6 separate regions of the Homo sapiens genome follow, and all the other regions are linked to region 3. Evidence: fine-mapped expression QTL. A gene starts in region 3. Each other region holds a variant in brackets. All regions are shown on one strand. Distances are from middle to middle.

What was found. PIP is the estimated chance that this variant, and not a neighbour inherited with it, causes the effect.
Region 1: its variant is fine-mapped to the expression of CCNI in whole blood (TOPMed, PIP above 0.99).
Region 2: its variant is fine-mapped to the expression of CCNI in esophagus mucosa (GTEx, PIP 0.94).
Region 4: its variant is fine-mapped to the expression of CCNI in whole blood (INTERVAL, PIP above 0.99).
Region 5: its variant is fine-mapped to the expression of CCNI in whole blood (TOPMed, PIP 0.96).
Region 6: its variant is fine-mapped to the expression of CCNI in esophagus mucosa (GTEx, PIP above 0.99).

What each region holds. Positions count from the first base shown.
Region 1 is chr4:77,015,806-77,020,882 of GRCh38, forward strand. SEPTIN11 (septin 11) reads left to right here. Exons shown (of 10, transcript NM_018243.4): 6 at 3,360-3,456; 7 at 4,697-4,865. It overlaps LOC105377291 (a long non-coding RNA gene), which reads right to left. Exons shown (of 2, transcript XR_001741734.2): 2 at 1-4,971. Among named protein-coding and RNA genes, the nearest start is that of CCNI, 58 kb to the right of the region's middle. RefSeq lists an enhancer at 1-2. The variant T/C (reference allele first, on the strand shown) is at 2,475.
Region 2 is chr4:77,221,274-77,226,350 of GRCh38, forward strand. No RefSeq gene overlaps it. Among named protein-coding and RNA genes, the nearest start is that of CCNG2, 67 kb to the left of the region's middle. The variant A/C (reference allele first, on the strand shown) is at 2,867.
Region 3 is chr4:77,072,885-77,077,961 of GRCh38, forward strand. It overlaps CCNI (cyclin I), which reads right to left and starts at 3,105. Exons shown (of 7, transcript NM_006835.3): 1 at 2,588-3,105. RefSeq lists silencers at 2,433-2,582, 2,643-2,992 and enhancers at 3,173-3,402, 3,301-4,271.
Region 4 is chr4:77,102,667-77,107,743 of GRCh38, forward strand. No RefSeq gene overlaps it. Among named protein-coding and RNA genes, the nearest start is that of CCNI, 29 kb to the left of the region's middle. The variant A/G (reference allele first, on the strand shown) is at 2,644.
Region 5 is chr4:77,147,485-77,152,561 of GRCh38, forward strand. It overlaps the pseudogene RNU6-1187P. Among named protein-coding and RNA genes, the nearest start is that of CCNG2, 7.2 kb to the right of the region's middle. The variant ATATTAATATAT/A (reference allele first, on the strand shown) is at 2,111.
Region 6 is chr4:77,199,673-77,204,749 of GRCh38, forward strand. No RefSeq gene overlaps it. Among named protein-coding and RNA genes, the nearest start is that of CCNG2, 45 kb to the left of the region's middle. The variant CGTG/C (reference allele first, on the strand shown) is at 2,320.

The sequences.
Region 1 (5,077 bases), 57 kb before region 3:
GGCATGATGGGGTGTGAAAGGAAGGTTGCCACAAGGGAAAATGGCTAGACTTGTGCAAAAGAATGAATGGACAAAAGATCACCAAGGGGTTTTGGTCCCATTACGAAGTGAGTGTTTAACTAGTAGAGCCACTGAGATGGAAGATACACCTTACTTCTTGGGAAGTAGTGAGTTCCCATCGCCAGTGGTTTGTAGATAACAGACCCTGTTTCAGTCCACTTGGAAGAGATACTGTAGCAGGAATTCTTAAGCAGGATTGAACGTATAATAAGCAAGATCTCTTCCACCTCTAAAATTCTCTGGTTGTGGGTATTGAGAGCTACATAATAATAATAGCACCTGACATTTTTCACATTTCTGGAGCATTTACTATGCACCAGGAACTGTTCAAGACTTTCCATTTAATCCTCACAACAGTTGCATAGGTAGGTGCTGTTATTATTCCTCCCTCATATATGAGGAGACTGCAGCACAGCACCTAAGATTGCATGGCTGTGGGTAGTGGAGGTAGAATTGGAACCCAGGCTTTGGCTGTCAGGCTACACTCTCACCCTGTGTACTGCCGCCCGAGCAGAGCAGTGTACCATCAGCCTCGGCATCCATGGATTTCACCAACCATGGACCAAAGATATTTGGAAAAAAAAAATGCAACAATAAAAACAATAATACAAAATATATATATATATGTGTATATATATAGCATATATATATATTTTGTATTATTGTTTTTATAATATATATAGCATATATATTATATATGCTAAAATATATATATAGCATATATATACACACACATATATATATATACACATATATATATATATACACATATATATATATATATATATATACACATATATATATATATATGGCCAGGCACAGTGGCTCATACCTGTAATCCCAGCACTTTGGAAGGCCGAGGAGGGAGGATCACTTGAGGCCAGGGGCTCAAGACCAGCCTGGTCAACATAGCAAGAAAATAAAAAATAAATTCTACAAAAAAAATTTTTTTAAATAGAGTATAATAACTATTTATATAGTGTTTACATTGTCTTAGATATTATAAGTAATTTAGAGATGATTTAAAGTATACAGGAGGATGTGCATAGGTTATTTGTAAATACTATACCATTTTATATCAGAGATTTGAGCACCTGCAGATTTCAGTGTCCATGGACAGTCCTGGAACCGGTACCCTGTGGATACTGCAGGAGGTCTGTACTTTTTTATAGGAAGGTCAAAATCTCAAACTGAGATGGCACTCCTTTATTCTGCTGTAGAACTGTAATTTGGGATGTCAGTGTGGGATTCAGGAAGTATCATGAATGACTGCTATGTAATTTTTCTTTATATTCCTATCCTTCTAGATAATTTTTCATTATTTTCTAGTCATGGAACTATATCTTTGTTAAACTTATTGGAAATAAAATACCCAAGAATTTTTGCTCTCTTTCTCTCTTTATCAGATTAATAGAACTGAATCTCTGACATTCCAAATTAATCCTGCTCTTTAAAGAAATTTTCTTTTAGGCTCTTCATTACAAACTATTCTTGCTGATCAAATTCCACGTAATGTCTGAGGAAAACAGATTCCACTGGCAGTTGCTTTTGTTACATTTGAGTGGAGAAATTTCCTTGGTCATTACACCAAAATATTGACCAGAAAGGTCCTGTTGCTCCTCAACTTCAGGGGAAACAATAGGGTTCAGGTCTGAAACTCAGACTTGTTTGAGAAAGATAATGTGCTTTCTTTCCTTCTTAGGGTGTGAGATGAACTAGAACATTTCAATATCTTGAGCGTCCAACAAAATGCTACTTGGGCAATCTGAGCCAATGATTATGCCAAGTTCTTTGTAGGAGAGGAATTGGCTTGAAAACTTTATCTTCTTTCTCAGTGTATCTATGGTGGAAGAACACTGGATCAAGGAACTCTAAATAATAATTCTTGGAGCAGCTATTTCAAATCTTATTCTTACATGCTAATAGAAAAAAGATAGGATTATTATTTCCTCCCTCACTCAGAATGCAGTGATAACTACCAAATAAACCAATGTGAAAGAGTCAGTTGTCTTGGACACCATCTCTACTTCAGATAAATCTGGGTGCATAGCTTGAGCCAGTAATTTGGGCTAAAGTGTGTTTCGGACTTAGAAATTTGTGCAATAGTCAACTGTCTAAAGCAGTGTTGTTCAAATAGAACTATAATGTGAGACACACAAGTATTTTAAAATTTTCTAGTAGCTACCTTAAAAAAGTAAAAAGAAATGTGAAATTAATTTTAAGGACTTAACCCAATATGTTGCAAAATATAATTTCAACATGTATTCAATATAAAAATTATTAGATATTTTAGGCTGGGCACGGTGACTCACGCCAGCACTTTCGGAGTAATCCCAGCACTTTCGGAGGCCAAGGCGGGCGGATCACAAGGTCAGGAGATCGAGACCATCCTGGCTAACACGGTGAAACCCCGT[T/C]TCTACTAAAAATACAAAAATTAGCTGGGCATGGTGGCCGGTGCCTGTAGTCCCAGCTATTTGGGACGCTGAGGCAGGAGAATGGCGTGAACCCGGAGGGCAGAGCTTGCAGTGAGCCGAGATCGCGCCACTGCACTCCAGCCTGGGCAACAGAGCGAGACTCCATCTCAAAAAAAAAAAAAAAGATATTTTAATGTAGGTCTTTGAGATCCAGTGTATATTTTACAATGACAGCATATCTCATCGTGGACTGAATTTTCACCAAAAATATTTTATCTGTATTTACATTTTGTAAAATTCACAGCTAAAAAGTTAAATTTACATACAGGTTTCTCCTAACATACCTTAAAGATTTTCAATATGAAATAAGTGCCAAAAAGATACTTTATCTTTAATCTTTGTGTCTACCTTGCCATCTACCTTGGTCTTTTTCAGAAGATTTGAGTTTGAAGCAAAGTGAAATGCAGTTTTGCCAAAACAATAAAGTTGCATTTAATTGAAAAATATTTTACGTTGCTTCCATTTTAAATTTAGATGTAAACTAATTAAAAGTTAGATATTCAATTTCTTGTTCCTACAAGCTGTATTTCAGGTGCTCAACAGTCACATATAGTTAGTGGCTACTGCATCGGCTAGCACAAGTCTTAAGCTTACTTTATAGTTGCAAAGACTCATACACTTTTCCCTTGAATCTAGCTCGTGTCTCATACTCAGTGTTTGGTTATAAGGGGGGTGGGATACGTGACATCCACCCACCAAACTGCAGCCTGCTTTTCCCTTGTCACCAAGTAGAGGCCTGCAGAAGGAGGGAGAAGATAGAGACTGGTGGAAACCAGTCTGTCAGAGCAGGGGAAAGTAACTATTCTCTGTCCTTTTGCTTGGCAGGTCCATCTCCCATTTGCAGTGGTTGGCAGCACCGAAGAGGTGAAGATTGGCAACAAGATGGCAAAGGCCAGGCAGTACCCCTGGGGTGTGGTGCAGGGTATGTGCACAGCATGGGAGATGGAGTCTTCATATTTAGCCCCTATGTGAATGGCCGTGTTTGTTCATTTTCCGTCTTGTTTAGGGAGGCCCTCAACAGTGGGCTGGCAGTGGGAGGGAGTGGTGGGGCTCCACATGTGACAATCGTGGAGGTGAGGAAGAAAGAAAAAGTAATCAGCTAGGTAGACAATGGAGAGACATGGCTGCCAAGCCCTTGAGGTAACCCCTCAAGGATGCTGGGTTGTGTAGGGAATTAATATAAAGTCCTGATTGAAAAATAGTTCTTCCCTAGGAGTTGGAGCTCGTTTCATCAGCCAAGTATTAAAAAGCAGCAAAAAGTTTCTTGCAAACAAGAGGGTACTTTTTTCTCCATCAACTATGCAAAAAATGTCTTCTAATAAAATGTTATCTTAGTAAATCTGAGACTTAGGAGAATATTTGATCTATATTTGGCACTGTGGGACATGGCCACAGTCTAACCTGAAAGCTTGTCACGTGTGTCACTTTGAATGACAAGGACTCTATGACCTACTCTTATGTTCTGAAGGAGGACATCCAGTGCTATGGATTAAGCAGGATGGCTAAAGAAAGTTCTTCGCTGGTTTAAGATGTATCAGACCTCCTTTTCCTCTGTTTTGAATAAAGGCAATAAAGCTGTGAGAAGAAACAGTACCTTTGAGATCCCTGGGAAAAATACAATTTTTCTTACTCTTACTAATTTCTCTACAATAAGAAAACTCCTTTCTTCCTAGTGTTGTTGATAAAATTAAATGAAGTGGTATGTAAAAGTGGCCCTGCACAGTTATAGACAGCATGGAGTGGTACAAATACATCTGGCTTTGGGCCAGATGTTCTGGCATTTGAATCTAGACCCTGCTACCTCTCTTTGGGAGGTCAGCTTGCTCACCAAGCTCCTGCGTCTGCAAAGCAAGAGTCATGACATCTAGTTGGCAGAGTTATTATGAAGGGTAAAGACAATATTTGTTTTCAAGCTCCTCCCTCTGTGCTCTGTGCTGAGTAGGCACTCAGCAGTCAGCGTTGTCATCAGTATTATGGTCAATGTTGTCAGAAATCTTGTCTTCGTCAGGAATGTAAGGTGAATCCAGTAAAGGATCTTCAGATGGTCTTGAGACCCCAGAGATTTCAGGAGTGATGGTAATAACATCTTGGAAGCATCACTGCAGATATTTCAGTGACATCATTGCTAATCCCACTTCCGCCATTTCCCCCCTCTCTTGTAGTTGAGAATGAAAATCATTGCGATTTTGTGAAACTTCGAGAGATGCTGATCCGCGTGAACATGGAGGACTTGCGAGAGCAGACTCACACCCGCCACTATGAATTGTACCGACGCTGTAAGCTTGAAGAGATGGGGTTCAAGGACACTGACCCTGACAGCAAACCCTTCAGGTATGAAGGCATCTAGCAATCAGGTGTCTCCCAGACAGTGGCGAGAGTGGCATGGTGGTACATCACAGAAATGCTTGCTGGATTGAGATGGTGATGATGGAAGGATCTGGTGGGTGAAGATTAATACATATGTTGTCAGGCATTGTGATAATTGCTTTATTTGCATTATCTCAACTAACTTACCTAGTTGATGTCATTATTATCCACATTTT
Region 2 (5,077 bases), 150 kb after region 3:
CTGCGCTCTCACACGAATGTACTCGGCACATCTTTCCTAGTAGGGCCACTGCCTTTCCTGAGCATGTCCCATCCCCTGCCCCCACCCCCTACCCGAAATAGAACTGAGCTTTAGTTACTGGATACCTGCCAACAGAGTCCATGAGGACTAGTTTTATTCTGATAAGAGACTTCAACTGAATTAAATTTAAGAGTTCAGTTGAGCAATGAATGATTCACGACTCGGGCAGCCTCCTGAGCCAAAGTATGCTCAGACACCCCAGCGTAGTCACATGTAGTAGACTTAGACAGAAAAAGTGTTATAAAGAAAACAGAAGTGAGGTACAGAAACAGCCAATTGGTTGCAGCTTGACATTTGCTTATTTGAATAGTTTGAATGGTTGACTACATTTGATTGGCCAACTCTGGCACAAGTGTAGGCTGTGGTCTGGTTATAACTCCACTTATTGTAATTAACAATGTATAGAGAAACCTTTAGGCTGAACTTTAATATGTAAGTTTAGCCTAAAGCTGCCTCCTTAACAACTCCAAGTAGGATACAGTGTGTAGAGGCTAATATACTGCCAACATCTGTTAAATATAATGTAAGAATCAAACTAAGGAGAATCTGTAGGAATCAAACTTTTCAGGACGATCATAGAACACTTATCAGTAATGGTCTGTCCTTTTAAATGTCACTTCTGTAGCACGTATAAACCTGTGTGGTGAGAGTACCTAAAATCTACTCAAATCAGTGGGACTGGGTGCGGTGTCTCATGCCTGTAATCCCAGCACTTTAGGAGGCTGAGGGGGGCAGATCGCTTGAGGCCAAAAGTTCGAGACCAGCCTGGCCAACATGGCAAAACTGTACTAAAGATACAAAAATTAGCCAGATATGATGGCGTACTCCCAGCTACTTGGGAGGCTGAGGCCTGAGAATTGCTTGATCCTGGGAAGTTGAGGTTACAGTGAGCTGAGATTGCCCCACTGCATTCTAACCTGGGCGACAGAGTAAGACCCTGTCTCAAATCAGTGTACAACACAGTATTAACTATAGCTCTCACATTGCATATTAGATCTCCAGACTTTACCTACATGACTGCAACTTTATACCCCTTTGACTTACATCTTACTTCCCCCTGTTCTCTGTAAGCACTGTTTGAATGTTTCTATGTATTAAATATTTGGTTTTCTTAGATTCTACAATAAGATCATGAGTTGTCTTGGCTTGGTTTATTTCACTTAATATTTTCCAGGTTCATCCATGTTGTCACAAATTACAGGATTGCCTTCTAAGGCTGAATGATGCTAAAATGAACATGGGCGCATAGGCATCGTTACAAGGTGGTGACTTCATTTCCTTTGGGTATATACCTGTAAGAGGAAATGTTGGGCTCTTAACTTCTTGAGGAAGCTCCATATTGTTCTCCATAACATCTGCACCAATCTAATTCCCACCAACAGCAGACAAGGTTTCCTTCCCTTCTCTACATTCTTGCCAACACCAGCTTGTCTCTTTGAAAAGTCATCCTAACAGACATGAGGTGATGCTTCATTGTGGTTTTGATTGACATTTTCCTGACCAGAGATGTGGAGCACTTCATATATATCTGGCCACTTGTATGTCATCTTTGGAGAAATGTCTATTTAGCTCCTACCAACTTTGAAAATTGGGTTGTTTTATTAATATTGAGATGTGAATTGACTAAACTTCGTATGTTAACACCTTATTAGATATTGTTTGCAAATACTCCGGCAAATTCATAGGCTGCCTTTTCATTTTGTTTCTTTTGCTGTGTAGAAGTTCTTCAATTTGTAGTCTCACTTAAATTTGCTTTTGTTGCCTATACTTTTTGGTATCCTGTTCAAGAAATAATTGCCAAGACCAATGTCAAACTGTGTTTTCTTGCAGGGGTATTAGTTTCAGGACTTGATTTAGGGCTCTAATCCATTAGTCACTTGTGTATAAGGGTTCAATTCCTTTTTTGCCTGTAGAAATCGTTTTCCCAAAACCACTTATTGAAGCGTCTAACCTTTCCCTATGGTGTCATCTTGGTACCACTGAACTAGTTGACTACATATGTTTGAGTTTTTCTGGCTTTCTGTCCTGTTCTGTTGGCCCATTGGTCTGTTTTAATGCTGGTATCATACTGCTAGGATAACTAACCTGGCACTGAGATCAGGTAGTGTTCTAGCGGATTTGTTCTAGCAGAAGTTTTCCTAGCAGGCTATCCTATGAATTTTAAGACTCTTCTTCCTATTTCTATGAAAATGAATTTTGCATCTGTAGACTGCTTTGGGTAGTGTGGACATCTTAATATTGCATCTTATGAGCTTGGGATATCTTCCCATTTATCTCAAATTTCAGTGTTTAGTTTTCTGTACGAAGATCTTCTATCTCTCTGGTTAACTTATTCCTAAGTCTTTTTTTGATTAAGTGGGATTGTTCTTTTTGGGGCAGTGTAGTGTATAGAAATGCTACATTCCTGTATGTTTGTATCCTGCAACATGACTGAACTCATTAGTTTTAACAGTGGAGTCTTTAGGGTTTTCTATATGATGTCTGCAAACAACGGCAACATTACTTTACCTTTCTGATTTGGATGCATTTGATTCTTCTTGGCCCCTTGCTCTGGCTAGGACTTCCACTACTGCACTGAACAAAAGTAGTGAAGCAACTGTCTTGTTGCTTGATCCTAGAGGAAGAGTGTTCAGCTTTCCACTATTGAGTATGATGTTAGTTGTGGGCTTGCAATATATGGCCTTTTGTGTTCAAAACACTTCTATACCTAATTCCCTTTTCTCCATGAAAAGATTAACTGTTAAACGCCCTTTCTGCATCTGATGATCGTAGCATGTATAAATCAAGGTAGTTCAATGTAAGTCTA[A/C]ATGGCTTGGACCACCTGAAAGACTTTTCTCTGCCTTGGTCAAAGGTAGCCTGAAGCTTCAAGATCTCTTGTCCTAAGGCCATTCCATCTTTACCCTCTTCACTCAGACACTCTGAAAGACCTATCCAAGGAAGAACAACAAAGCCAGAACTTGTCTATCGCCTGGAGCAGGGCTTTTCTAGGTACCTGTTGCAGGTTCCTCAGGTTGGTGTACTCCTCAGGCAGGAGCAGTCCTGTCCCAGTCTTCTTGCATGTATAAGCAAGAGATCAAAAGTGGCTCTACCCATGAGAGGGGTGGGAGTTTTAACTTATTTTTACTTGCCTGATGTGTCGTAACTTTGACAATGAGCTTTCAGAAGAGTCGACAGAGCTGCCTAGAACCAGGTGCTAGTAAAGCACAGAGGCCAGGGAGACGCAAGTGAGCTGTGTGGAGGTGTACCAAAATGATAGGTTAGAGGATGGATCCCATAGGTACAGACTTTATTAGTATCATTCCGAAACAGCTAAATTGGCTATTCAGTTTATGATGGTCCTTGGGGTTCTAGGAACTGCCTGTTACTGCAATGTGGAAAAACCAACTCCTGATCCAAATCCCGAGTGGTGTCAGGACCCTCTGTCTCAGGCAAGACCTCCATTATCTCTTGACTTCAGATGAAAACTTTCATGCCTTTCAACAGCAGGTGTCAAAACTTAAGAGGTGTCCAAGGTAACTGAGCCATGAGGCAAAGTACAAGATAAGGAGTGATAGGACGCAGGAGATAGCACAGTCCATGTGGGGAGGTGGGCAACCTGTGAGAGCCCCAGTGATCCTCACATGTGGTAAGCACCCTACTTTCAGGGTAGATGTAGTTACTTGCCTTGTGATGAATAGTTAATGGAAGAAGTTGATGGTACATTACTTCCAAGATTAGGCTATAGAGACTGGCTTCTGTAGTTGGTCTTTTTCTCTTTGATCAGTTGTTCAAGGAGACGGCAAGCTGCTACATTTATGAGTCACCCCATGGAGGATAAAAGTGTCACAGCAAGTAGCAGAAACCCTCAGTCCAACAGCCTGTCAGGAGTTGAAGCTCACCACCTGTGAGTGAGTTTGGAAGTAGACATTCTGAGGTGTGACAGCTGCCATGAGTATACTTGGAGGCAGATCCCCCTGACACTGAGCCTTCAAATGGAAACTTATCTGGCTAACAGCTGGATTGCAACCTCATGAGAGAACGTGAACCAGAGGCATTTACCTAGGCTGTACTTGTGTTCCTAACCCTTGGAAACTGTTTTAAGCTGCTAATTTGGGATCATTTGTTTGGCAGCAACAGACAAGCAATAGCCTATGTGAGTTGGCAGCTGCTACTTAGCTTGACCCAACCATTTGCTCTATTAGAATGACAACTCTGGCTAAGAAGGAACTCAATGAACTAGAAATTTAGATTTCTAAATTATAGGGCAGAGGTAACATGATAGTAGACTCTGGAGTCTTCATGTTTGATCAACATTACATTTTTAATAAAGTAATGCTACCTTCTGAGTCTCTCTTGTGGGAGGCCAAGTGGTAAAACTAAGGCTCTAAATCTCAAGTAAGCCTGCTGAGATGCTACCAAAGTCTGTCTTCTATCCTCTTCCAATTCCCCTTGTCATCTTCTGGTCAATGAATGGGGTAAGACTATTTGGATCAAGATACAACAGCCTGAATGAGCTGAGGAGTCTTGGTGCATTCTTTGAAAATGGTAATGGAGTAGATATAATTGGAGAACTTTCCAGGGTCAGACCAGAATGCCAGGTAGCAGAGACAGGCATGCTGAGGCCTTAGAGCATCTGCACTCTGAGATGGCTGTCCTTGGGTGCCATCGTAGACATCATCCTCTTAAGACTTTAATTCTTCTCACTCAGCACAGGGAGCTCTACCTACTGATAACCTGGCGGGCAGCACTGTCCAATTGAAACATTGTGAGCCACCTGTGTAACTGGAACTTTTAGTAGCTACATTAAGAAACACAAAGCAAGCGAATCTTAAAATGGAATCTAGTTGGACTTGTAGTCAATCACAACTACTAGTTGTGGGTGGATCCTAGCTCAAAAATTTCCTGCCCATGTAGAATTCCTTGCCTGTTAACAAGAGAATGTACTGGATTATCTAATCATGCTTCCCTAAGATGTTCTGCCACTTCAGGAATGTGTTTTAAAAGGAACGATGAACTTTAAGCATATCAGTTGTGACCT
Region 3 (5,077 bases):
TATGTTCCACATAAAAGAACAAAAGACAAGACTAGTAAGACATACTATGATACAGAAAGCATGGGCTTGGCTTTTCTTTTACTGACAGTGCACAAGCCTATTTTCTACGGGTAAAGCACATTTTGAGTTGAATTAATAAATTCCGCTAAGAAAATGCAAACATTTAAAATACAATTTTAGTTTTAACAGAACTATATAGTTATGTTTTGTTACTGTATGCCTATTGTTGGTTACATCCAACTTTGCATGCTTTTTTAGAAAAGCAAGAAATAACAAAAGACTATTTTAGTTGGCATATTCCACACACATCAAACTTTATGCCAGTTTCACATTTCTCCTCCCATCCTCTCAATTGCTGCCGCTTCTCCTTTCTCCACGGTTATCAAATAGCTTAATGTCTGAGGTAATAGTTTATAAAAGGCTTACTGTACAGCATAACTATTACAGATATACATACAGGGCCCCCTGCTCCTCTGAGGAAAAGTGCTGCACAGTGCTGGGTATACAATATAAACAACTTCACTAATATGTATTATTGTATTTGCTATCATCATCACACCAATTCCATTAATAATCCTGTACTAGTGCTGACTTCTGAATCTTAGTTCCTCTTCTGAAAGGAGGGATTAACGTGGCCATACAAGAAACTGAAGTTCTACTATTCCCTCCTTGACTTTATGCACTAGAAACAATGAATTAAAGGTATTTGCAATTCCAAGTGTATGCTCTTTCCCAATCTCCCTGGCTGTACAAGCACTGCTGTTTCAACTTGAAATGTCCTCTAGCTCATACTTCCCTTCCTAAAGTAGCCATCAGTCTGTAAGACTCTCTGGATTTGTGCAGTTGTGCCCTGCCTTCCAACATCTGTACTTGGACATAATTCTACCTTTACATTTAGTTGCTTTGAGACTATTGGTAAACTTGCCTTTCCTAATAATGAATTCTTTGATGTTAATCTCCAGAGTTGAGCATATGCCTAATAGCTTCACTTGTAAACAGCTTAACAAGTAAAAGCACTGAGTGCTTACTATTTGACTACCTATTGTTCAAAGCGCTATGCCATATTAACTCATGTAATGTTCCCACAATTTGATGAAACTGTGGAAAGCCCTTTTTTTCTAGTTTTTTATTTTTCTTACTACACCCCCATTTCAGCCATAAAGCCCATTTTAAAGACGAAGAAACATACATAGGAAGATGAATATTCATTTTTAATGTATTACACAATCAAAACAAAACACGGACACACTCAGCTTCCAATCTTGACCAACACACATGCTAAGCTCCATTCTAACCTACTAGGATGTCACATTACCACATAAACTACCTGTAACTGCAGATCATTTTTACTGAACTTCCCTAACACATGCTGACTGTATTAGTCTGCCCTTCATCGGTATCAAGAAATTTCTAGTAGAGGGGCTCAGAATCTCTCGGAGATTCTCTGGTCCCAGATTAGCCAATCTACATCTATTCCGTCCATTATTTCTTAATCTATTTGTCCAATCCTTTCTATTTCATCTGCCACAAATGACCTGGAAAAGCTAGCAGCAGATAACACTGCTATTTCAACAAACTCATTTTCAGGACAGAGACCACACAGCGTAGAATCAGACTTAATTCTGGCTACTGGGTTTTAGCCGCGTTACCTAAGGAGAAAGTTAATCTTGTGGAGTCTCAGTTTTCCTCATCTGTAAAATGAGGCTCCTACTACCAGCCTTGGGGGGATTAAGTGAATTGCAAGCCACTTAGGAGAATGCCTGGCAGATAATAAGCCTCATCAAATGTTGTTATTTAACGTCATTACTGTAATGCTCTGCTGCTCTAAGTCGAGTGGCTCCCCACTGACAGAATAAAACATAAACATTTTAGTTCAAACCCCTTCAGAGTCTGAATCCATCCTACCTCCCGAAACACCTTCCACTGTTTTGATACCCAATTGTCAACTTCTGCCAAAAGGATCTGTAACGGAGCCCCCTAGCTCCAGCGGAGGCTCCTCTGTCCTCCTTTCAAATTCCAGTTATTTAATCTAGCCTTTAGAGCACAACTCAAATCTCACCTCCCCCGGATTCCCCCCACCCACCCGCCCCAAGCCCTGGGTAACGTTGCCCTCCCCCGAATTTCACAGCACCGGAGGTTCACCCCATTCATTTGGCATTCAGTCTGCCGTGCAAAGTTAGTAATCCTCCTGGTGTCCCCGGAGAATCGTTCAACCTGAGGGTGGGGGTGTGTCCCCTTCTTTGTGTATTAACACGGGCTCGTAGAGCCTCCAACACGCACTATAGAGTAGCTAATTTGCCGCTGCCACAAAAAAAAGTTACTCGCTGACAGAAAAACTGGCCCGAAAAGGAACACAGTAGTGCCGTTTTCAAGTGGGCAGGTGACGGGTCTGTCTGGGCCGGAGAGGACGAAGAGGGCGGCCCCGAGGTTCCCCGGGCTGGGGGATGCGGGAGGGTGGGTCTCCGGCGAGCAGCGCGCGGCCAAGGGCGCTGCCACGGGGGCGGCGCGGGGGGAGCAGCGGGGCCCCAGCGCGTCGACGCCGGCCGCGGAGACGCGTCGAGCCCCCGCCCCCGCCCCCGCCCCTCACCTTCTCCTCCTCTTCCTCCTCCTCCTCCTCCCCGGCAGAGCTGTAGGCCTCACAGTGGTGACGCGGGGTCATCCGGGGGCCCGTTACCACCTCATTCTCATAGGCGCGCGGAGGCGGTGCGCGCGGGACGACTCGGCCAACTGAGGAGGGAGAAAGGGGAAGCGGATCGGGGGGCGCGGGCGCGGGCGCTGGCGCTCGAGCGGGACGCACGGCTGCGGCCGCTGGGTCGGTCAGCGAATTAGTTCCATGATGACCCCCGGCCTGAGGCCGCCGCCGCTCGAGCCCGGGTTGGGAGGGGGCTCCCTCTCGCCATAGGGCGGCGGGGGCCGGGGAGAGGCGGGGGGTGAGACCGGCTCTGCCCCTGCCCGGGGAAAGCGCCTCCGAGGGGAAATGGTGAAAGGGGGGGAGGGGAGAAAAGAAAAGAAAAAAAAAAAAAGAAAGGGGAAAGGGGGGAAAAATAAGAAAAAGCGAGACAGAGGCGCTGCCGCGTCCGCTCGCGGGGAAGGCTGGGGAGGGAGGGGAAGAGAGGGGAAGGGAGGAAGAAGTGCCGGCTTCCTCGGCTCCGCCCTCGCGGACCGATTCCTAGACTCGCCCACTCCTTGTAAACTACGCGGACTTGGTCTTTCACCCTTCCTGTTCCTCCCCGCCGCCTTCCCGGTCCAACGAAAGTACAGAGAAGTGCGGCCGAAAGGAGACGGGCTGGGGAAGTCGTTGGCACTAGGATGGAAGGAGGGAGGACGTTTTCTCGTGGCTAAGAAAAGCCGAAGGTCCGTGGACTCATTTTCCTTGAAGGAGCGGAAGGGTTGCTTGCAGACCGCACGGTGACGTCAGCGTCTCTGGGCCCCCACTGAGGGGGCGTGCGGTGGCCGGAGAGTGCGCTGCGCATGCGCCTGGGGAAGAAAGAAGCGGCCGAGCGCTGCGCTTGGGGGAGGGGATTTCACGATCCGCTCCTGTGGTCCAGCTTTACAGCAGCTTGGTTTTATCTAGCCCTACTCGTCCCCAGGCTCTTAGAAGGATTCACTGGGAAGGGGCTACTGATCTCTTGGGTGGAGATCTTGCAGATTTGTTGACCTAGCAAAGTATTACGTGTTCTTACCGTTGACATGTAAATAGAATTGCGGTTTTTCTCACTGCCACATTGTGTGGGTGGAGGGAGATTCTAAAGGGTTTTAGGAATCGGAAAATTAGGGAGAATCAAATCATGGGTGCTTAAGGCCTCAGTGAAACACTGTAAATTATACTGCTGACGGCGAGGAACCTGCTTGGCAATGTGGCAAGGGGATTTTATCCACTCAACCAACACGTCTGAGTATTTCCGAATAGGTTTTATTACCAGGTGCTTAAAGAATGTGTGGTGACATAAATGGGTTTTATTTGGGGTTCTGTTAGTACAAACGGTAACTTTTTGCTATTTTGATTGTTTTAATTATTTAAAAATATGTAGTATTACAGAGTTTTGAAAGAGGAAGAGCTAGATCTCAACCATTTATAGAAGTCTCGTTTGTTTTTTCCATTTGTTTTTTATATAGTTATTTTAACTGTCAGTGAAAAAATATGTGTTGAGTTTATTTAGTGGCCAGACTCAGCAAACTGGAAGTAGCCAAGACAGACATAGCTCCTGCCTTCATGGAGTTTACAGTCCAAACAGAGGATAACCATTGAGCTAATTATCACTATGTAAAATTACCAAGTACATTTACTTGTTTACTTGTGCATGTATCCCCTCCCTAGAATATAAGGTCGCAGGCGGCAGGGATCTTGCATGTTTCACCCTCTATCCCTGTGTATAAAAGGCTCTCAATATTTGACCAAGTAAACAATTCTGGTATTAAAACCGTTAAGATGGAAAATCGCCGGCTGCTGTGGAAACGCTTGCCTTTCCGCCTGGTTTGGGATATCAGAGAAGGTTTTTCTGAAGAAGTGACATTTAAGATGAGACTTGAAACCACTGGGCAAAGAATGATACAAGCAGAGGAAGTTATGTGAAAAGGCTCCGAAGCTGAGACGTTCTAAAAATCTCTGAAAGCTAGTGTGGCTGGCCCTCAGACAACTGAGGCAGGATGTGGAAGCAGAGGACAGATGCCATAGAACAGAAGAAGGAATGGGAAGCCCTAGGAGGATTTCAAGTGGGTTGTATCCTTTTTTTTTCTTTTTTTCACTTCATGTAGCCTATTATTATATGGTCTTCATTCAAAAAAGCCACCATTTTTCTGCATGTTACTCTTGAGACTGTAGCATTTCTGCATAATACTATTGAGAGTGTAACATAATTCCATTGTTAGACCATGAAATTGCTTCTGATTTTCACTCCAATAAGAATAATGCAAATTCCACTCCTAAATATATACCCAAGAGAAAGGAAAATATTTGTCCATGCAAAAACTTTTTTACAAACGTTAGCATTATTCATAATAGCCAAAGATGAAACAACCTAAATGTTCATCAGCTGGCGCCTGTATAAATCAAATGTGATACATCTATGTACAATCA
Region 4 (5,077 bases), 30 kb after region 3:
AATGTCCTAATATTTCACAGGATATTTTCATTACTTGGAAGAAAAAAATGCTCTGTAGATGTCATTTTTCCTTAAGAAATAAACAAATGAATACTAAATGCAACTTAAGTAAAAAGGTTAATGAGATTACTGGTGAGAAAATTACTCCAAATACTGCAATTTCTCTCTCTCTCTCCCCTCCTCCCCCCACCCCCCGCCCCCCGCTATATATATATATATATATTTTTTTTTTTTTTTTTTTGAGACAGAGTTTCACTCTTGTTGCCCAGGCTGGAGTGCAATGGCGCAATCTTGGCTTACTGCAACCTCCACCTCCCGGGTTCAAGCAATTCTCCTGCCTCAGCTTCCCGAGTAGATGGGATTACAGGTACCCACCACCATGCCCAGCTAATTTTTGTATTTTTAGTAGAGACAGGGTTTCGTCGTGTTGGCCAGGCTGGTCTCAAACTCCTGACCTCGGGTGATCCACCCACCTCGGTCTCCCAAGGTGCTGGGATTATAGGTGTGAGCCACCACGCGGCACCGCAATTACTATATTCTATGACATATAGTGTATCTGTTTTACAAAGTGCTTATGATACTTGTATCATGCATATATATATATATATATATATATATATATATATATGTCAAAATTTTTTTGACAAATTCATTTTAATCAAATTAGCTTTTATTTAGTGATTAGTGAATGGAGCCCCATCCCTTCTAAAATTAGAAAGGTGCTCTGATTAGCCGAGCACAGGAAGTAGGCTTTATAGGTAGAAGAAGGCTAAAGAAAGCAGAAACAGGCAGGGCGCGGTGGCTTATGCCTGTAATCCCAGCGCTTTGGGAGGCCGAGGCGGGCGGGTCTCCTGAGGTCAGGAGTTCAAGACTAGCCTGACCAACATGGAGAAACCCAGTCTCTATTAAAAATACAGAATTAGCCGGGTGTGGTGGTACATACCTGTAATCCCAGCTACTTGGGAGACTGAGGCAGGAGAATCGCTTGAACGCGGGAGGCGGAGGCTGCAGTGAGCTGAGATTGTGCCATTGCACTCCAGCCTGGGCAACAAGAGCGAGACTCCGTCTCAAAAAAAGAAAAGAAAGCAGAAACAAGGAACAAAAAGAGAATTGGTTGTTACAGAGCTAGTTTCCTTACAGGGTTAAAACAAAGGGGACTTCCTTATGCTGGCTCAGGTAAACTGGGCCCCTTCTAATTGGTTGCTGTGAATTGAATATCCTGTTGTTTATTTTTAGTGTTTTTAAATTTTTTTATTCAAACAGATTTTGACAGATCTATTTTTAAAAAAACTGGCCTTGTTTAAAGAAACTTTGTTAATCTTATGAGTTAAGAATGCTTTTTTCTTTGAGCAATTTAATGGTTTTATCACATAATTGATTGCTACTATGCATAAAGTTTAAAACACACATATCTCTTTTTTTTTCTTTCTTTTTTGCGACAGTCTTTCTCTGTCGCCCAGGCTGTAGTGCAGTGGCATGATCTCAGCTCACTGAAATCTCTGCCTCCCAGGTTCAAGAGATTCTCCTGCTTCAGCCTCCCAAGTAGCTGGGATTACAGGTGCCTGCCACCACCCCCGGCTAATTTTTGTATTTTTTAGTAGAAACGGGGCTTCACCATGTTGGCCAGGCTCGTCTTGAACTCCTGACCTCAGGTGGTCCACCTACCTTGGCCTCTCAAAGTGCTGGGATTATAGATGGGAGCCACCGTGCCCGGCCTAAAACACACGTATCTGAAGAGATGACCTGCATATTAATTTGCAATAGAAAAAGAAATAATGGAGTTTACTGAATTAAATCACTGAACTAATTTGACAGCTTAAACTATAGTAGTCAAGCAAAATCTCTGTGGAATTCATATTTACATATTAAAACATTCCTGAGTTAAGGGGAAAAAAATAGCTTGGCTTTATAGCTTCAGGGAAATACTGCTAAGTAAATTTAGGGGACTTCCAGTGGTAGAGTAAAAGGGGGAAAACCATAGAATTATCACACTTTTCTGACAACTGGAGCTCAAACAAACTCTTGGGACATAAGCTGCATAATTCTGTCCCAAAGAATGGTTCCTCTTGAGTGACCTTCTGAGGGTCCAGGTCTTCCTGGACCTTGAAAATAAAGGGTAGAGTTTGCACCTCAGGTTGGGAATCGGAAATCAGATTTTAAGGCGTGAGGGAGGTGTAAGTCAGCCAAGGACACAGAGTTCTTCAGAACCAAGCTTTCCTGGGACATGAATCATATTTATTTTAGGCATAAAACTTTCTAGCTCCAAATGAGGGAAAATTTCTTTCTTGCTTTATAAAGAATGTCACTCTCTGCCAGAATGTTAGGAAGCTACTGAGTAGATCCAGTCCTGAGGCTCTGTGGCCCATTTGCAGAGTTCTCCTTCTTAACCTTCTGTCAGCGGTCTGCCTGGCCCTATGCCAAGCCCAGCTTCTCAGTCCTGCGGTTGTGTGTAAAGGCAAAATCATGTCTGGGGTGTAGGCTGCATTCTCCAGTGAGTTTGTTTACCTGCTCCAGGTAAGTCAATATGTCCCAAGAGAATCCTCGGGACACAGAAAGCATATCGTGCCAAGTGAATGCAGCCCTGCTGTAGGCCTGCCTCATTAGACAAAACCATAGCCCTTTGCTTCCTGAAAACGTTCCTGC[A/G]TGGATTTTAAAGCTGTAACACGACCTTATTAATTTTAGTTGCAAACTTGAGCACATACAGATGGTCTATTTAAACCATAATAAACCTATGCTACACTGTAGGGTTGTGTTCATTTATGTGGTTGCATTTTACCATAGTGTTGTAAAGTTAAATTCTAGGCTATCAAACAAAAATTTCCAAATGTGAGAAATGTGAGATCCTTTTTTGCCTTTCTTTTTTTTTCTTTTTTCTTTTCTTTTCTTTTTTTTTTGAGGCAAGATCTTGCTCTGTCACCCAGGGTGGAGTGAAGTGGTTCACAGCTCACTGCAGCCTCAACCTCCTAGGCTCAGCCTGTCCTCCCACCTCGACCTCTTGAGTAGATGGGACTACAGGTGCACACCACTGTCAAGTGTTCGAACCAGAGCGACTCCATCTGGAGTAAGGACTATGAAAATGAGGCTGGGACTTGCTGGGCTGCGTACCCAGCAAGTTAGGTATTCCTAGCCTCTCGATGTTTACAGTTAAGGGAACAGATTGATAATGTTTACTAAACAGACCCAGACTTGGGAGTGTCCTGATATCCCGATATCTTGAAAACAGAAGCATTTTTTTTTTCTTTCTGAATTTTTAATAGAGACAGGGTTTCACCATGTTGCCCAGGCTGGTCTCAAACTCCTGAGCTCAAGTGATCTCCCACGTCAGCCTCCCAAAGTGCTGGGATTACAAGCATGATCCACTGAGCCTGGCCAGTTTGTCTGTTTTTTTTTTTTTTCTTTTTTCATGCTATGAAATTATTTGTATATTGTAGGTACTCAATAAGTATTGAATTAATTATTTAATTAATACCTAAAAGTCAATCTGATTGAAGTTGCTTGTATTCAAAGGATCTTAAATAATTCAAATATGTGCAACATAATCCATTTTGTTTCAAAAAATTATTTGTGCTTATAAAAAAGGCTGGAAGTATATTTTAAAAAATATTAGAAGTGATTATCACTGAAGATTGGTGTTATTGGTGATTTGAATTTCTTTGTTGGAGAAGTTAAATTATTCCTCTTTGAAGATGAAATGATTTTATACTGAAAAAACCCTAAAGACTCCACCAAAAAAAAAAACTGTTAGATCTAATAAACAAATTCAGTAAAATTACAGTATACAAAATCATCATAGAAAAGTTGGTAGCATTTCTATATACCAATAGCAAACTGTCTGAAAAACAAGTTAAGAAAACAATCCCATACACAATAGCTACAAAAATTGAAATACTTAGGAATAAATTTAACCAAGAAGGTGAAAGATCCTTACACTAAAAACTATACAGCACTGATGAAAGAAATTGAAGAAGACACAAATAAATGGAACGATACCCTGTGTTCATAGATTGCAAAAATTAAGATTGTTAAAATGTCCATACTACCCAAAATGAACTATAGATTCAATGCAATCCCTATCAAAATGCCAATGACATTCTTCACAGAAATAGAAAATACAATCCTAAAATTGTATAGAACCACAAAAGGCACCAAATAGCCAAAGCAATCTTGAGCAAAAAGAGTAAAGCTGAAGGCATCAGACTTCATGATTTCAAAATAAGCTGCAAAATTATAGTAACCAAAACAGCATAAAAACAGACATATAGAACAATGAAACAAAATAGAGACCCCAGAAGTAAATCCATGCATTTATGGCCAACTGATTTTCGACAAAGGCACCAAGAGCACACAATGGAAAGGAGAGTCTCTTAAAAAAATTCTGTCGGGAAAACTGGATATCCACACGCAGAAAGATGAAATTAGACCCTTATCTCCTATCATATACAAAAATCAACTCAAAATGTATTAATAACTTAAACGTAAGATCGGAAACAATGAAACTACTAGAAGAAAACATTAGAGGAAACTCCATGACTTTGGTCTGTGCAAGAGTGTTTTGGATATTACCACAAAAGCAAAGGCAACAAGAGCAAAAATAGATGGTTAGAATTACATGGAACAAAAAGCTTCTGTACAGCAAATGAAACAACAGAGTGAAGAGACAACTTACAGAATGGATGAAAATATTTGCAAACTCTATCTCTGATAAGGGATTAATATCCAAAATATATATACAAGGAACTCAAACAATTCAATAGTGAAAAAAAAAGCAAGTAACCCTATTAAAAATGGGCAAAAGACATAGAAGACATACAAGTTGCCAATAGGTATATGAAAAATGCTCAGCATCAATAATCATCAGGGAAATGCAAATCAAAACCACAATGGGATATCACCTGACACTTGTTAGCATGACTATTATCAAAAAGACAAAAGATAAGTGTTGGCAAAACCATACAAAAGAATGAAATCATGTCCTTTGCAGCAGCATGGATGCAGCTGGAGGCCATTATCCTAAGTGAATTAATGCAGGAACAGAAAACCAAATACTGCATGTTCTCACTTATAAATGGGAGCTAAA
Region 5 (5,077 bases), 75 kb after region 3:
GGTTAAACTTGATCTATGTAACATAGTAACTATGTCACTGTAAAATAGTGGTTAAGAGTGTGGATGCTAGAGTCAGATTGTCTAGGTTTGAACACTGATTCCACCACTGTCTAGCTGTGGGATCAAGTTACATAAACTCCCTGGGACTCTATTTCTGGGTCTGTGTGATGGTACTTACCACTTGTGTGTGTTACAGGCATTAAAGTTATGTCAGGACATATAAATCACTGAATACGGTGCTTGACAACTTCATTATTGATTACTACATGTAGATTATTATAAAGCTAATGAAATTTAGCTTCAGGGGCCCTCATTTGCACACTCTCTCCAAGTTCTCAGGAGTGGCCCTAGCAGAGTGTTCATGTGTTGGTTAATTTTATGTCAACTTGACTGAACTAAGGGATGCCCAGGTAGCTGGCAAAACACATCTTGGGGTGTATCTGTGAAAGCATTTCCAGAAGAGAAGGGCATTTGGATCAGTAGACTAGTAAAGAAGACCACACTCACCAATGTGGGTGGGCATTATCCACTATGCTGAAGGCCTGAATAGAACAAAACGGCAGAGGAGAAGGGTGAATTTGCCCTTGCTGTTTGAGCTGGGACATTCATCTTCTCCTGCCTTGGATATCAGTGCTCCTGATTCTCAGGCCTTTGGACTTGGACTGGGACTTAACACTATTGGTTTCCGGGATTCTCAGGCCTTTGGGCCTTGTACTGGAACTACACCACCTGGTTTCATGGGCCTCCAGCTTGCAGACAGCAGATTGTGGGATTTCTCAGCCTCCATAATTGCATAAGCCAATCCCTCATTATAAATCTCCTTCTATATACAGTCATGCATTGCTTAATGATGAAGATAAGTTCTGAGAAATGCGTCATTAGGCAATTTTATTATTGTGTAAACTTCATAGAGTGTACTTACACAAATTTTGGTACTATAGCTTACTACACACCTAAGCTATATGGTATAACCTACTGTTCCTAGGCTACAAATCTTTGCGGCATGTTACTGTGCCAAATACTGTAGATAACTCTAACACAATGGTAAATAGTTGTGTATTTAAACATATCTAAACAGATAAAAGCTACAGTAAAAATACAATGTTATAATATTATGGAACCACTGTTGTATATGTGATGCGTTACTGATTGAAACATCATTTTGCTGTGCATGACTATATCTATATATATCCTATTGGCTTTGTTTCTCTGGAGAACCCTGACTGATACAGTTCACATATATATTTTTTTGAGTTTTGTGAAAGTAAGTGATTTTAATTACAATCAGTTAAGGCTGCTATCTTTCTCCATGTCAAATTTCACTGTATCATTTTCCCTTGAATTTAGAGGTGCTTGAGTGTCCACCAGCATTTTGGGGATCTAAGGGGAAGTTGAGTTGAAAACATATCATTTAACTAAAATTTAAAAACACATTTTGGATTGTTCCAATAAAACAATGAGGAATTATAAAAACCTAATTTGGATATAAAAGAAAGGTGCTCTGTTTTGTTATCTAAAAGTGCTTTTATTGAAGAACTAAGAGAAAATTTACATAAAAAGTTAATGGGATATGAAATAAAAGTGATAAAAATGCATGATGACATTGCTTCTTGTTCAGATACGAAGAAGCAAACTATGTATAACACTTTTTCCAGATCATTCTAAAACCAGTGCTTCCTTACAGGGAAAAGAGAAATTTTTAGAAGTAATGGATAAGTCTTGGATTGTTTGATACTCTATTAAGAGGAAGGAATCATAAAATCCTACAAAATATAGAAATTTCTTGCTGATTTGATACAAAATACTGACATTGACAAAGATGACATAAACCTCAAAATATGCTTCTGCAATGAAGAAACAGATGAGAAGCTAAATAATTAGTCTATCCGTTTTCACTGGTATCCTGGATTTTTTATAGCTTGTACGCAGAAAAAAACTTGGTAAAGATTTTCCCAAATCTAATATCAACCATAACATATACTATGGTATTAATAATGAATTATAAAACTGAAATAAACATTTTAAAACAGCAACAATTTTTTAAAAACAAAATTTGATTAGCCATATTAAAGGAAAAACTAAATTTAAAAAAAGTTCTCTTCAGAAAATT[ATATTAATATAT/A]TATTATCATATGAAGAGGTGATCAGAGAGTATACAGCCAAAAATATTGGTAAAAAGTTGTACAGCCATATGTCAGGCAGTTTATTAATAAAAAATATTATGGGATTTTCCAGATTTTTTATGTTTGTGAATGTAAAAGACTATTTTCCAGAGACAGTCATCACAGTATCTCCTATCCCACATGCTCTTGTTATAAGGTGATTGACACATCCCTCATTGAGAAGTGGAATCTACGTTCCCTGTCTTTGAACCTGAGTAGATGTGACTGTGGCTGAAAGGATGTTGTAGTTGACAGAATAAAGGTCCCTCAAAAATGTCCACATCCTATTCCTCACCAGCTGTGAATATGTTATGTAATATAGCAAGATGGAATTAAGGTTGCAAATCTGCTGACCTTTTTTTTCTTTTCTTTTCTTTTCTTTTCTTTTTTTTTGAGACAGGGTCTTTCTCTGTCACCCAGCCTAGAGTGCAGTGGTGTGAACATGGCTCACTGCAACCTTGACCTGGACTCAAGTGATACTCCCACCTCAGCCTCCCAAGCTGAGACTACAAGTGCATGCCACCATGCTTGGCTAATTTTTAAAATTTTTGTAGAGAAAACGTCTTGCCATGTTGCCCAGGCTGGTCTAGAAGCCCTGGGCTCAGGCAATCCTCCCATCTCGGCCTCCCAAAGTGCAGGGATTACAGACATGAGCCACCATGCCCAAACTTTTCTTTTTCTTAAAAATACGGAACACTTCATAAATTTGCCTGTCATCCTTGCATGGGGGCCATGCTAATCTTCTCTGTAACATTCCAATTTTAATATATGTGGCCAGGCGTGGTGGCTCACGCCTGTAATCTCAGTACTTTGGGAGGCTGAAGCGGGCAGATCACCTGAAGTCAGGAGTTCAAGACCAGCCTGGCCAAGAGGGCAAAACCCTGTCTCTGCCAAAAATACAAAAATTAGCTGGGCGTGGTGGTGCACACCTATAATCCCAGCTACTTGGGAGGCTGAGGCAGGAGAATCCCTTGAACCCAGGAGGCAGAGGTTGCAGTGAGCCGAGATCGTGCCACTGCACTCCAGCCTGGGTGACAGAGTAAGACTCCATCTCAAAACAAACAAACAAACAACAAACAACCCCCCCCACACACAAAAAAAACAACAAAAAAACAATTTTAATATATGTGATGCTGAAGCAAGCACCAGCTGACGTTGAGATGGTGAGACTATACTGGACTATTCAGGTGGGCCCAATGTAATCACTAAGGTCCTTATAGCTGGAAGTGGGAGGCAGAAGAGTCAGAGTCAAGAGAGATCTGGAGATGCCATGATGCCGGCTTTAAAGATGGAGGAAGAGCCACAAGCCAAGGAACGCAGGTGGCCTCTAGATGGTGGAAAAGGCAAGAAAATGAATACTCTCTAGAGCCTTCAGAAGGACTGCAGCCCTGCTGACACCTTGATTTTAGCCCAGTGAGACCCATTTTGAACTTCTGACCTCCAGAACTGTAATATGATAAACATTTGTTGTTTTAAATCCCTAAATTTGTGGTAATTTCCTAGACCATCAGTGTGAAATTAATATAGATGCTATCTGACTGCCAAGGCTGGTTTGTAAAAGGAGACACAGTGTTCACCTGATTTTCTTCAGGCCCTGCCACCATGCCATGAGGAAATGGAAAGACCACGTGGAGTGGTCACATATAAATGTTCCAGCCACCAGCCTCAGCAGAGGTCCCAGCCCACAGTCAGCAACAACTCCAGACACGTGAGTGGCAGCAAGATGATGCCAGCCGCAGTTACCATCTGATTACAACTTCATAAGAAACCCTGAGCAAGGGCTGCCCAGCTGAGTTCAAGCAACGCCCCAGACCTGTGGGTGATGATAATAAAATTATTGTTGTTTTGAGTCACTAAGTTTTGGGTGATTCATTGTACAGCAGTAGATAGCCGAAGCAGTCAGTATGTAACAACTGTTTAAAATTTACACTTTGTCTTGAATTGTCTCGTTTTAAATAAGTATTCACTTTCATATCTAATTTTGTATTTGTAAATTCTTTTTTTCCTAGAGAGAGCCCCTCCAAATAGTAAAGCTTCAAATGTACTACCTTAAATCTGGTTCTACTTCTGCATGTAGCCACAATTTCTTATTCAGAATGTGGTTGAAAACATAAAAATATACGTAATTAAACAGACCTGAGGATCTTTGATATAAAGCAGTCTTTCTTTTTTTCTGAGACGGAGTCTCGCTCTGTCACCAGGCTGGAGTGCAGTGGCGTGATCTTGGCTCACTGCAACCTCCACTTCCCAGGTTCAAGTGATTCTCCTGTCTCAGCCTCCCAAGTAGCTGGGACTACAGGTGTGTGCCACCACACCCAGCTAATTTTTGTATTTTTAGTAGAGACAGGGTTTCAACAGCAGTCTTTCTTTTTAAAGTTAAAAAAAAAATTTCATTTTGAAAACACTTTAAAATGTTAACAGAAGCAAATTTTAAGCTTATACCACTTATCCATATCACTTTAAACATCAATTGCCTTTTCATTTGAGATAAAAAAAGAGATCATGACTCTCACAGACAGTAAAACTTCTTTTGGAAATAAGATGATACATTCAACAGATGTATCCTAAGTTACTCTTTGCTGACAGTGTCAACTTCATATAGCACTGTGATGTCAAGGAAAGACAGGAAATCTCTGAGTTAGGTCATGGTTCTTGAAACAAACCATGAAAGAAAAATGTGTTACATAAAGAATCATGTACAATGTACCAGAATGTAGCCTGAGCCACTTAAAATATATTTTAAGATGATTTTGAGATGATTAGTTCTGATTTCAGGCATTGCCGAATTCTCAGTTCACTCTCCTTTGCCAGGCTTTTCACATTATGTCAAAGCTACTTCATTTATTTCAGTTGATTATTCGTGTAAAAGAGAGAGCACTGGATAACAAAGTACTGAGTCGGGCTTCAGAGTCAACC
Region 6 (5,077 bases), 130 kb after region 3:
GGGCAGTTGACAAAAATACTAACCAGAACATGGACCAACTTGTTTATGAACCCACTTGAGGCCCGGAGTTAACTAGGGCCATTACCTGGAAGCTCCTGTGCTCTTCCCCTCACTGCTTTCTCTGTATGATGCTAGATTATTTGTGACTGATACTGAGGGTAATGAAGAATCTCAAACACTGTCTGGCTTTGTTGTGTATGACATTTAAGTGAGCCAAATACTTGAGCTCCTCTGGCAAGTGTTCTGCTTTAACCAATTAGCTTGTATAACAGACTTGGCTATCTTGTCACTTGGATTTGAGTGTGATGGAAGAGTTGTTTCCCTCACCTTGTGTGAGCCTCTACCAGCAAGTTAGCCTGTTGGGGAGGCAACTAACACTTTATGGTAATTGGAGCAGTCCTTCCTACAACTGTCTTCTCAACTTGATCTTAGTTACTGTTCTCTTAGGCAGAACTTGCCCATATTTCACTTACCAAGGAGTATTTGGAAAGTTTGTCTCAGAATAAAAACCAGTGATTCCCTCGACTCAGCAGCAAAGGCATCCAATGTTTCACCCAAGCTAAACTTTGGCTATTACTCCAGCATAAAAAGCACTTGTCTAGGATGAGTCTGCATATGTCCATCCTGGTCTTGAGCTAATGCGACATGAACAGTTTGACCAAAGATGAGCTTGAGACTGGCCAGACATGTGACCTAATGGAAGATAATTATTGTACACATACACCTGTAACTGCCCTTGAATAATGAATCAGTCTTGACGGAAATAAAGCCTAGCAACAGCAAAGGACCCAATGCACGGGAAAACTCGCTGGTGTCCATTTGACTTAGGCTGAGAGAAACATGCTGAACTCCCAGCTGTCAGTTTGTCACCTGCCGTGTAATATTTCAGTGACTATTTTGCTTTGTCCAAGACTCCATAGGATTTGAGTGCATAGGTAAAGACCCTCCCTGGTGATAGAAGCTTCTTCCAGTAGATACTCAGTCACAACCATGATTCAGAGGGGCTTTCTTGATGTCTTAAATTTCAACACGTGGAATTGCATTTTAAAGTTTTTTGCTTATGATCAGGTACTAAGTGGATTGACTGCATTTTGTCAACTTTACTGGTAGTAGGCATGTCCCTAGTTATATGGGGACATGTACAATTTGAACTAATAGATCTGTTAGCTCATAAGAAATCAGAGTTCTCACAAATGCTAGCTGTTGCTTGCTATTCTATTCTCCACCCACCCCCACCATTTGTAGGAGCTGGGTATCTTTAGCATGTCTTTCAAAGATTTCTATACCTCTCACAGGGTTGAGAAAGACTTGTCAGATCAATAGATGAGACACATTCCCAGATGAACTTGGAAGTAGAACTATAAACAATGCCATGGGTATCCCCAAACCTATGCAACATTGTTTTGAACCAACACAGCCTCTACAGGTTGAGGAAGCCACACTTATTGGTATACTTCATAGTGAATTCCCCACTGCTGTGCAGTTTCTGCTCAAATTTCTACTAGGTGGTTTCACGTCACTTCCAGTTACCATGCTTCTGGTCAATTTGGGGTGGATTTTTAAGAACACTCTGGTTCCATATATAGCCATCTCTTTGGGTTCTCTCAGCATTCTGGTTCTATTTTCATGTTCATACTAGTTACTTTTGCCTAATCTTATACCACTTCCCACCCACCTCTTGTCATCTTTTAAGGTTCTATTTCCCTATCCTTAATTCTTACTGCTTTGCTTTAAGGTTGTTGGGTAGTGAGCTGATTTCCTCTTAATGTCGCAGGCATTTAAGACCATATACATACTGATTCATGAATGTATAGGACCATGGTGACTATGAACAGACCAGTCATGACTCAACTTGCAAAATACCTATGAATGTGGACAAGGAATAGTATGTACAAGAGTCACCCAGACTTGACTTCATGCCATTGTTCTGAATGCTCTCATATTGGTTCACTTATAGGAGTAACTACCTCAGGGTTTTATTTTATAGAGAAAAACTGAGGCTCAGTGTCACCCTCACAATCTCTCAAACCTAGGAAATTGTTCACTTTAGGTTGTTTTGAAGTCTTTCCATATACTACTCCTCTTACAGTGACTTGCTATAGCTTGCCTTGAGAACAAACGTCTCACTTTAATGCTTTATGGTTAAGGGTCAGGTATAACTCGGATCAATAAGCTAAACCTCTAAAATCAAATAGTCGGGTGGATGTCATTCTTACCTTGCTCAACAGGAAGCTAGATGTCTTAAGACCACTCATGCTACAGGAAATGATTGTTTCCCTGTGCTTACCTGGCTCTTGAGTACACTGACTCAAATGTCAA[CGTG/C]GTGGGTAACATGGGGCTTCTATGAAAAGCTTTTGGTGTGGCAGGGTGTAATGGGTTAAATGTCCTGAGCTTAGTCATGTACTTGATTGTCTATGACTAAATGACCAAATAGACATAAAAAGGGTGGAGTAAATCTGTCATAATTTACAGCATATCTTGCTGTTCTTTTTTTCTCCCTTTTCTCTTGGCCTGTGGCTTAACTGCACCTAACATCTCTCGGGAGTGCCTTAATAAAACCAGTTAAGGACTGCTTGTTTTATACAAGCAATGTATTCATATACCTTCCTGTTAACAGTAAAAATCTAGACTAGCGTAACAATACTTGTCTGATTAGTGAGGCAATTAGTATGTCACCTGACAAACCAGAACTGATAGAAATCTTATTTGGAGGTGTTACCATAATCAGTTTCTATTTAACCTGACATACCTGAGAAAGCATTTATGGGCCGGATCTGCCAGGAATATGACATCTCAACTACTCTGTCCTTGGTGGTTATCACCTATATGATAATCTGAAGCTAAACCTGCACAAGGTCTTCCTTATACAAAGTGTATTGGGACCTGAACCCCAGGTTTGGGTCCACAGCCAGATAACTAGTTCTGCAAGAAGAGGTGTTAGTATGGTTGTGAAAACACCTTCCCCATCCCCTGACTCACCTTCCTGTCAACTGCTTCCTACTGGAATTCCTCATGAATAGGTGGTTAACACCTTGTACTTTGTCCTAAACAACCCAGTTTTGTCTCACTCACCCCGTCTTCCTCTCCAGCTTGTTCAAGTCTCTTGTTCAAGTCATTCCACTTCAGGCCTGTTAAGACTACTTCTCTTGACACAAATCTCCAACCCACAGACTTTCTCATTCCAGCTGTTGCCTTTATTGACTTTATTTCCTTGTTATAGTATCTTTCATTTATTTAACCCCATGGCTTTTTTTCTGGTAAATCTCAACCCTTCGTGAATCCCAAATGTCTTAGTCCTAATACTAGAAAGATAAGGCTTGGCTGAGTTAGACTATGGTAGAACCATGTCTCTAAACTTATCACTGACTTCTGATGTATCTTTCCAACTCCCAAATTTCGCAGAGGGGAGAGAAGCTAGAAAAACAGGGTTGTTGGGCAATCTTGGTAAACTTGGGCCCTTCTAAACATGTAGCTTTTGTTTTATTCTTGTAACAAGTTTTTCCTTGCTTTCAGGTTATAAACGAGTGAGTAAAACATGAGATAATGTCCAGAACTCAGTGTAGCAGGAGTTGATTGATTTGCTCTGGTCTCATATGCTCACCAATTCCTCCACATTAAACCCACCAAATTAAGTAGCTGCCCTACTCTAAAATGGTTCCACCTACTGACTCCTTGTTCCTTTCTGAAATAGTCCTGGTGTCTCTGATTGCTAGAGGCTAAGTCCTGTGACTGTGTCCCTAGCAGCAGCAGGGACTCTGGGAGAGAGCCCTTGGGATAATGGGTCTCGATGGGAGAAACCCCTCAAACTGGGGTCATGAGGCCTTCCAATGTGACAAAGTTCCACAACTATGCTGAACTGGTCCTAAGAAAAGCTTACATGACTGCATGTCTAACCAGCATAGCAGATAGCCATGGCTCACCTGTGCTCTTGAAGACAGTATGAAATTGAGACCAAGTAGCTTACTCTACTCGACTCTGAGTAAATGTTTCAACGGTGTCTATGCTGCTGTGGTAAAGCATTCACTCCAAACGGGGAGCATCCTTACGTCCAGCTCACTTTTCAAGAGTTAGCAAAGTCATGGCTTTGCAACTCAGTCAAGCTTTTATGGTTACTAAGCGCCCCCTGTTGATGGCAGTTTAAAACTGGTTGTGCCCCATGCTTCAAAGTGGCAAGACCCCGTGTGTCTAATTCCTGAAACAGTCCAAGGCTCCAAACATGAGGGCAGGCCCCGTTAGGTCCTCTCTGGCAGCTTTTGCTTCACCCTTGCTTCATTGTTTGGGCCTCTTGCCTCTTCTCCTAAGATGGCTTCTAGGGTTGGCATTATCAACACAATCCCTCCATTCCTTCCACACAAGGCTAATTGCTTTGTTCTCATTTGCTCAAGGTATATGAGAATAAACATAGCTGCAAATCTTGAGCTGGTTTTGAGAAACCTGTTTCCCTAAACACCTTCTTGTGCTTGGATGGAAGGCTTAGGACCTTAGCCTAGTGCCTAGAAATGGCTGATCTTCTAGTGAGTTAATAGGTCTCAACTACAGTTAAAGTTAAAATGACCCCGACTAGCTTTTGAGACTACCTAAAGGACCCATTTGGTTCTGATCTGCCATGGACCAATACTTTGTAAAACACAATAAATAGAAAATGCCAAATTTTGTTAAACCCACACCCTAGCAAACAAAGGGGAAGAAATACATGGTTCGTTGGAAGAACATACAGGTGACAGGTGACGACTACAAATGTACAATGATAGTTATCTAGAGGTAACTGAGGTACATGTTAATGTTCTTGTACAGAATGACTATTGTGCATATAGTGCTTAATGTACTGAGTTCTTCATGTGACAAATAAGCTTGTTTAACCTACTGAATCTAGGTTGGAGTGATAGCAATGCTACTCAGAGGAAAACAACCAAAAGGCTTTGTTTTAATAGCTTTCACAGCAGAGGCCAATCTCACATCCCTCAGAAGTATGTTGACCAGAACAGAAGAATTTAAAGCTATTGTAGCAGAATTGGGGTATATTTAACTTTTAAAATGAAGTAATGCTTTATTTTAAACTCATCTCTAATCCTTCATC